3 separate regions of the Homo sapiens genome follow, and regions 2 and 3 are each linked to region 1. The links come from fine-mapping of genetic effects on gene expression. A gene starts in region 1. Each other region holds a variant in brackets. All regions are shown on one strand. Distances are from middle to middle.

What was found. PIP is the estimated chance that this variant, and not a neighbour inherited with it, causes the effect.
Region 2: its variant is fine-mapped to the expression of LINC02987 in whole blood (INTERVAL, PIP above 0.99).
Region 3: its variant is fine-mapped to the expression of LINC02987 in esophagus mucosa (GTEx, PIP above 0.99).

What each region holds. Positions count from the first base shown.
Region 1 is chr19:27,792,232-27,794,996 of GRCh38, forward strand. LINC02987 (long intergenic non-protein coding RNA 2987) reads left to right here and starts at 1,200. Exons shown (of 7, transcript NR_146733.1): 1 at 1,200-1,378. It overlaps LINC00662 (long intergenic non-protein coding RNA 662), which reads right to left and starts at 1,709. Exons shown (of 3, transcript NR_027301.1): 1 at 1,301-1,709; 2 at 769-1,001. RefSeq lists an enhancer at 1,442-1,921.
Region 2 is chr19:27,722,674-27,725,438 of GRCh38, forward strand. No RefSeq gene overlaps it. Among named protein-coding and RNA genes, the nearest start is that of LINC02987, 69 kb to the right of the region's middle. The variant G/A (reference allele first, on the strand shown) is at 1,642.
Region 3 is chr19:27,286,460-27,289,224 of GRCh38, forward strand. No RefSeq gene overlaps it. Among named protein-coding and RNA genes, the nearest start is that of LINC02987, 510 kb to the right of the region's middle. The variant C/G (reference allele first, on the strand shown) is at 1,510.

The sequences.
Region 1 (2,765 bases):
AAGAATACAACAGAATTTAGTCTCTATAACTAATATTTATAATTTCTATTACACAATATTAAAATTCATAAAATGTGTGAAGAAATGTAACATGCAAACTATACACAAGATAAAAAGCAGGCAGCAGAAGCTATTTCTAAGATGTCCGAGATGATGTAATCAGCAGACAAGTATTTCAGGGCAGCTATTATAAGTACGTTCATGGGGGTAAAGGAAAATATTCTCATAATGAATTAACTCATGTAGAGTCTCAGCAGAGACATGGAAATTATAAAAAGAGTAAAATAGAAGACAATAAAATAATAAAATAAAAAGAACTTTTAGTTTACAGAGTAGAAACAGAAGACAGCAATATAAACCATCCAATCTGAAGACTGAAACAAGTTTAAAGAAAATGAAAAGAGGCCTAAGAGACCTGTGAAATGATTGAGTCTGAGACAGAGAGGGAGAGACAGAAAAATTAAATATAATACAAAAACAAATAAACAATAGCTGAAAATTTAAAAACTTGGTCAAAACCGCAAATTCTTATATTCAAAAGGTGAACACACTCCAAAACAAAAACAAAAACAAATAAAACCATATCGAGGCCCTACTGTGATTTAGAAAACTGGCAGAGCAAGATTTTCCAGGGAGTTGCTATGATTTCTCATTTTCACTATTTATAATAATGGAAAATATGCACTCCTTAGTTTTCTTCTTGGAGAAAGTCTGACTTGTCAAACACAGATGACTTTTCAGTTTAGTTTTCAAGGTTTAATTTCTTACCTTGGAAATCAATTAAATTTGTTTCTTTAAAATGTCGCAGTAAAATTGCTCCTCCAGACAGATGTCCACGGAGATTCTGTCCTGCTGCGTCCGCCTTTCACAGAACTGAGGTTGTTCCTACACCAGTTTCAGAAGCGTGTAGGCACGCTTTATTACAGTGGCAGCAGCGTCCCTGTGCGAGGTCTAACCCAGGTGTGGGCCCTGCAGCCAGCCCGGGGGTCCAATGGGTCCTCCTATGGAGCACAGGAAGAATCGTGGCAGGCCAGAGATAGACAAAAGGTGGCTTTTAAAAGGGAAGTGTCAGGTTACCAGGGACTGGGTACTTTTACACGCGGACCTTCGGCCCTGCCCATAGAAAGGGGCAGCACTGCGCATCTCTGAAGGAGTGTGGCAAAGGGTGGGGCAATAAGAAGGGTGGGGCAGAAAGGAGTGGCCCCTCAGGAGGAAGGGGCGGGGAGATCCCAGCTACTAGAGGACGCCCGTTCCAATGGCAACTCTGCCAAGGCGCCTATGAGAGCCTCTTGGCTTTTACCTGGTCTGCGAGAAATCAAACTTTGGGCACAAGTCATGAAGCCGACAAGCCCGGGAGACACAGTGTCAGAATTACAAGGTGAGATCAGCCGCCCGGCCAAGCTATCTTCTCGCTAGCAGGTGAGGCCCGTGAACAGCCAAGCTCCCCTTGGCACGGCGGAACCGCAGTGGACGCGTGGAGGGGCTCCGTAGAGGAGGGACCTTTGCTTGGGATGCGGGGAGCTGTAGTCTCTTATCTGCACCCAGCTTGTTAGTTGTACGCCTGCAGGACTACAATCTCAGCACAAAGCAGGATTGTAGGGCGGTGCGGATCCCTGGAGGGAGACAGCGCGGTGCGCTCCTGCCGGCCATGCTGGCTGGGGTGGTGTCTTAGGCGGTTCCAGCCGTTAGTCACAGGGCGGCCGGACTACAATCCCAGCATACAACGGGAGTGGAGGTGGTGACCTTGAGAGAGGGCCTGTGCTGTGCGCGCCTCGCGGGGCATGCTGGGAGCAGTAGCATCTTAGCTGCTTCCGGCCGCTGGTCGCAGGGCTGCGGGACTACAATCTTCGCATGAAATGGAAGAGAGGGTGGTGCGGATAGCTTGAGGAAGGTACGGATACCTTGAGGGAGGTATGGATACGTTGAGGGAGGTACGGATACGTTGAGGGAGGTTACGGATACGTTAAGGGAGGTACAGCAGCGGTGCGCGCCTTGCAGGGCATGCTGAGAGGAACAGTTTTTTAACTGCTTCTGGCTGTTGGTGGCAGAGCTGCGGGACTACAATCCCAGTATGCTACGGGAGTGGGGATGATGCTGGTCCCTTGAGGGGGGGGGGCAGCGCGGTGCCCTCCTGCCGGGCATGCTGGTAATAGTGTCTTAGCTGCTTCCGGCCGTTGGTCGCAGGGCTATGGGACTACAGTCTCAGCATGCGCAGGGTTCAAGGGTGTTGCGCAGCCCCGCAGGGAGGGGCAGGGCGGTGTTGACCTCTGTTTCCAAACCCATGCTGGCTACTGAATCTGTGCCACCCCTGGCTAAGGGGAGTGAGTCCATAGAGGGACTTGAAGGGCAGGTCTGGGCTGGGCAGTGAGGAGAGTATGATACTGCAAAGTGCGCCTCGCCTTTGCCAAAATCGGTCGGGTCTCAGGCTCACCCCACCTCCCGCTGCTCAGTTCCGTTTCCCTCCAGAGCATCAAGCCTCCTCCCGCCCAGGGGGCCTCCTGCTTTCCTAAGCTGCTGTGGAATCGGCCTGAGGTCCCAGACGCTGTCCATTGTGCTGCTGCTCTCTGCTTTCTCCAGCCAGAGTGCCAGTTCATCCGCTTTTGGGAGAACTCCGCCGCCTGGCCTGCCCGCGGAAAAGGTCACAGCTTTGCAGGGGGTGACATGGGCTATGGCTTCCTGGAAATGTCACCCTCACTAGCGCCTTTTAGATAGATGTGAATTTTGAGACATGAGGGAGAGTAATTATTGGTTTACCCAGGAGATGC
Region 2 (2,765 bases), 70 kb before region 1:
ATACACGCTTATATCTGTTAGATGAATGCACATATTACAAAGCTTCTTCACAGATAGCTTGTTTATAGTTTTAATTCTGGGATATTCAGTTTTTTCACTAGAGGCCTCAATGGGCTCAGAAATGTTCCTACGTAGATTCTACAAAAAGGGTTTTCCAACCTGTTGAATCAAAGCACAAGTTTCATTCTTTGAGATGAATAGACGAATCACAAAGCATTTTCACAGAAGGTTGTTTCCAGTTTCTATTGCAGGACATTCGGTTTTTCACTAGAGGCCTCAAAATGCTAAAAAGTATCTCTGTAGATTCTACAAAAAGAGTGTTCTGAACAATGTTGAATCAGAACAAAGGTTTAACTCTGTGAGAAGAATCCACACATTACAAAGCATTTTCACAGATAGCTGCTTTCCATTTCTTATCACAGGAATTTCGGGGGTTTTTTTCCCCCATAGGTTTCAATGGTTTCAGAAATGTTTCTTCGTAGAGTCTACAAAAATAGTGTTTTTAACCTGTTGAATTAAAACAAAGGCTTAATTCTGTGAGATGAATCTACAATTCACAAAGCATTTTTGCAGATAGCTTGTTTCTACTATGTATCACGGGATATTCGGTTTACCTTTATAGGCCTAACTGGGCTAAGAAATGTCCCTTTGTCTGTTCAACAAAAAGAGTGTTTCGAACCTGGTGAATAAAAACAAATGTTTAACCCTGAGACACTCATCCACACTACACAAAGTATTTTCGCAGATAGATTTTTTCTAGGTTTATTGCAGGATATTTAGTTTTTCACTATTGGCCTCAATGGGTTCAGAAATGACCCTTCGTAGCTTCTATAACAAGAGTGTTTCCAGCCTGTTGAATCAAAATAAAGTTTGAAATCTGTGAGATGGATCCATGCATCACACAGCATTTTCACAAATAGATTGTTTCTAGATATTAATGCAGGAGATTCATTTTTTCACTATAGTCCTCAAGGGGCTCATAAATGTTTCTTTGTAGATTCTACCAAAAGAGTGTTTCACCCTTGTTGAATCAAAACGAAGGTTTAACTGAGTGAGATGAATTCACCCATTGCAAAGCATTTTCACAGCTAGCTTGTTTCTAGTTTTTGTCATGAAGTATTCAGTTGTCCACTATAGTGTACAATAGGGACAAAGATATTTCTTCATAGATTCTTAAAATAGAGTGGTTCCAACCTGTTAAATCAAAACAAAGGTTTAATTCTGTGAAATAAATCTACACATCTCAAAGCATTTCCACGGATATCTTGTTTCTAGTTTTTATTGCAGGATATTCAGTTTTTTGCTATAATCTCCATAGGCTCAGAATTGTCCCTTCGAAGATACTACAAAAACAAGTTTTTTAACTTGTTGAATCAAAACATAGGTTTAACTCAGTGAGACGAATCCACATATTGCAAAGCATTTACACAGCTGTTTTGTTTCTAGTTTTTATTGTGGGATATTCATTTTTTTGCTATTGGCCTCAATGGGCTCAGAAATGTCTCTTTGCAGATTCTACAAAAAGAAGGTTTCAACTTGTTGAATTAAAACAAAGTTTTAACTCTGCAAGATAAATTTGTACATCACAAAATTATTTCACAGAGAGCTGGTTTCTGCTTTTTATTGCAAGAGATTCACTTC[G/A]CAATAGGCCTCAACGGGCTCAGAAATGTTTTTTCATAGATTCTACAAAAAGAGTGTTCTTAACCTGTTGATTTAGAACAAAGGTCTAACTCTCGATGAATCCACACATCAAAACTCATTTTCATAGTTTGTTTTATATTTTAAAATGGGATATTAGCTTTTTCACTACAGACTTCAATTGGCTCAGAAATTTTTTTCATAGACTCTACAAAAAGAATGTTTCCAAGGTGTTGAATAAAAACAAAGGTTATCCCTGTGAGATGAATGAACGTATCACACAGCATTTTCCCACAGAGGTTGTTTCTATTTTTGCTCACGGGATTTTTGATTTTTCACTATAGGCTTCAATGGGCTTTGAAATGTCCCTTTATATAATCTACTAAAACAGTGTTTCCAATTTGTTCAATCAAAACAAAGGTTTAAATCTGTGACATGAATCCACATATTGCAAAGCATTTTCACAGATAGCTTTGTTTCTAGATTTTAAGGTGCATTATACCTTTTTTTACTGTAGTTTTTAATGGTCTCAGAAATGTCCCTTTGTAGATTCTACAAAAAAAGTGTTTCCAACATGTTGAATCAAAACAAAGCTTCATCTCTGTGAGATAAATCCACACATCACAGAGCATTTTTGCAGATAACTTGTTTCTAGTTTCTATCCCGGGATATTTGGTATATCACTATACACCTCAATTGGCTAAGAAATGTCCCTTCATGCATTCCACAAAAGAGTGTTTCCAAACTGGTGAATCAAAACACAGGTTCCATTTGGTGAGATAAATGCATACATCACAAAAAATGTTCACAGATAGCTTGTTTCCAGTTTTTATTGACGGATATATGGCTTCTTGCTATAGGCCTCAATGGGCTCAGAAATATTCCTTCGTAGATTCTACAAAAAGAACGTTTCTAACCTGTTAAATAAAAACAAATGTTTAACTCTGTGAGATTAACCCACACATCGGGAACCATTTACACGGAGAGCTTTTCTTCTAGCTTTTATTGCAGGATATACAGTTTTTCTCTACAGGCCTCAGTGGGCTCAGAAACGTCTTTTCATAGATTCTACAAAAAGAGTGATTTCAACCTGTTGGTTAAAAACATAGTTTTAACTTTTTGAGATA
Region 3 (2,765 bases), 510 kb before region 1:
GATATTTGGAGAGCTTTGAGTCCTATCATGCAAAGGGAAATAACTTCACATAAAAAATAGACAGAAGCATTCTCCAAAACACCTTTGTGATGCTTACATTCAACTCACAGAGGTGAACCTTTCTTTTGATAGAGCAGTTTTGAAACACTCTTTTTTTTAGAATCTGCCATTGGTTATTTGGAGCGCTTTGAGGCCTTTGGTGGAAATGGGAATATCTTCAGATAAAAACCAGACAGAAGCATGCTCAGACACTACTATGTGATGTTTGCATTCAGCTCACAGAGTTGAACCTTTTTGATAGAGCAGTTTTGAAACACTCTTTTTGTAGTTTCTGCAAGTGGATATTTGGACTCCTTTGAGGACTTCGTTGGAAATGGGAACATCTTCACATAAAACTAGACAGAAGTATTCTCACAAACTTCTTTGTGACGTGTGCATTCAACTCACAGAGTTTTACCTTCCTTTTGATATAACAGTTTTGAAACACTCTTTTTGTAGAATCTGAAAGCGGATGTTTGGAGTGCTTTGAGGCCTTCAGTGGGAATGGGAATATCTTCACATAAAAAACAGCAGAAGCATTATAAAAAACGTCTTTGTGATGTGTTCATTGAATGCAGAGAGTTGAACGTTGCTTTTGGTAGAGTAGTTTTGAAACACTCTTTTTGTAAAATCTGCAGGTGGATATTTGGAGCACTTTGAGGCCTATGGTGGAAAAGGAATTATCTTCACACAAAAACTAGACAGAAGCATTCTGAGAATCTTCTTTGTGATGCTTGCATTGAACTCACAGTGTTGTACCTTCCTTTTGATAGAGCAGTTTTGAAACACTCTTTTTGTAGAATCTGCAAGTGGACATTTGGAGAGTTTTGAGGCCTGTGGTTGAAAAGGAAGTATCTTCATATAAAAACTAGAGAGAAGCATTATCAGAAACTTCTTTGTGATGTATGCATTCAACTCACAGAGTTGAACCTTCCTTTTGATAGAACAGTTTTGAAACACTGTTTTTGTAGTATCTGCAAGTGAATATTTGAAATGCTTTGAGGCCTACTGCGGAAAAGGAAATATCTTCACATAAAAACTAGACAGAAGCATTCTCAGAAACTTCTTTGTGATGTGTGGATTCAACTCACAGAGTTGAACCTTTCTTTTGATAGAGCAGTTTTGAAACAGTCTTTTTGTAGAATCTGCAAGTGGATATTTGAAGCACCTTGAGGCCTATGGTAAAATAGCAAATATCTTTACGTAAAACTAAACACAAGCATTCTCAGAAATGCTTTGTGATGCTTGCATTCAACTAACAGTTTTGAACCTTCCTTTTGATAGAGCAATTTTGAAAATCTTTTTGTAGAATCTGTAAGTGGATATTCAGAGCGCTTTGAGGCCTATGGTGGAAATGGGAATATCTTCACATAAAAAGTTGACAGAAACATTCTCAGAAACTACTTTGTGATGCGTGCATTAAACTCAGAGAGTTGAACGTTACTTTCAATAGAGCAGTTTGGAAACACT[C/G]TTTTTGTAGAATCTGCAAGTGGATATTTGGAGCGCTTTGAGGCCTATGGTAGAAAAGGAAATAGCTTCATATAAAAACTAGACAGAAGCGTTCTCAGAAACTTCTTTGTGATATATGCACTCAACTCATAGAGTTGAACCTTCCTTTTGATAGAGCAGCTTTGAAACACTCTTTTTGTAGAATCTGCCAGTGGATATTTGGACTGCTTTGAGGCCTTCGGTGGAAACGGGAATATCTTCACTTAAAAACTAGACAGAAGGATTCTGAGAAACTTCTTTGTGATGTGCACATTCAACCCACTGAGTTGAAACTTTCTATTGTTTGAGCAGTTTGGAAACAGAGTTTTGTAATATCTGCAAATGGATAATTGGAGATCTTTGACACCTACGGTGGAAAATGAAATATCTTCACATAAAAACTAGACAGAAGATTTCTTGGAAACTTCTTTGTAATGTGTGCATTCATCTCACAGAGTTGAACATTTCTTTTTTTGAGCAGTTTTGAAACACTCTTTTTGTAGAATCTGCAAGTGGATATTTGGAGCCCTTTGTTTCCTATAGTGGAAAAGGAAATATCTTCACTTAAAAGTAGACAGAAGCATTCTCAGAATTTTCTTTGTGATGTGTACATTCATCTCACAGAGTTGAACCTTTCTTTTGATTGAGCAGTTTTGAAACACTCTTTTTGTAGAATCAGCAAGTGGATATTTCGAATGCTTTGCGACCTATAGTGGAGAAAGGAATACCTTCACATAAAAACTAGACAGAAGCATTCTGAGAAACTATTTTGTTATGTGTGCATTCATCTCAGAGTGCTGAACTGTTTTTTTATTTGAGCGGTTTTGCAACACTCTTTTTATAGAATCTGCAAGTGGATATTTGGAGAATTTTGCCACCTATAGTGGGAAAGGAAATATCTTCACATAAAAACAAGACAAAAGCATTCTGAGAAACTCCTTTGCAATGTGTGCATTCATCTCAGAGAATAGAACTTTTCTTTTGATTGAGCAGTTTTGAAACACTCTTTTTGTAGAATCTGCAAGGGTGTATTTGGGGCGTTTTGAGGCCTGTGGCGGAAAAGGAAATTTCTTTACATAAAAACTCTGCAGAAGCATTCTGAGTCACTTCTTTGTGATGCGTGCATTCATCTGATGTAGTTGAACCTTTCTTTTGATTGAGTAGTTTGGAAACACTCTATTTGCAGGATGTGCAAGTAGATATTTGGAGCACCTTGATGCCCATGGTGGAAAACAAAA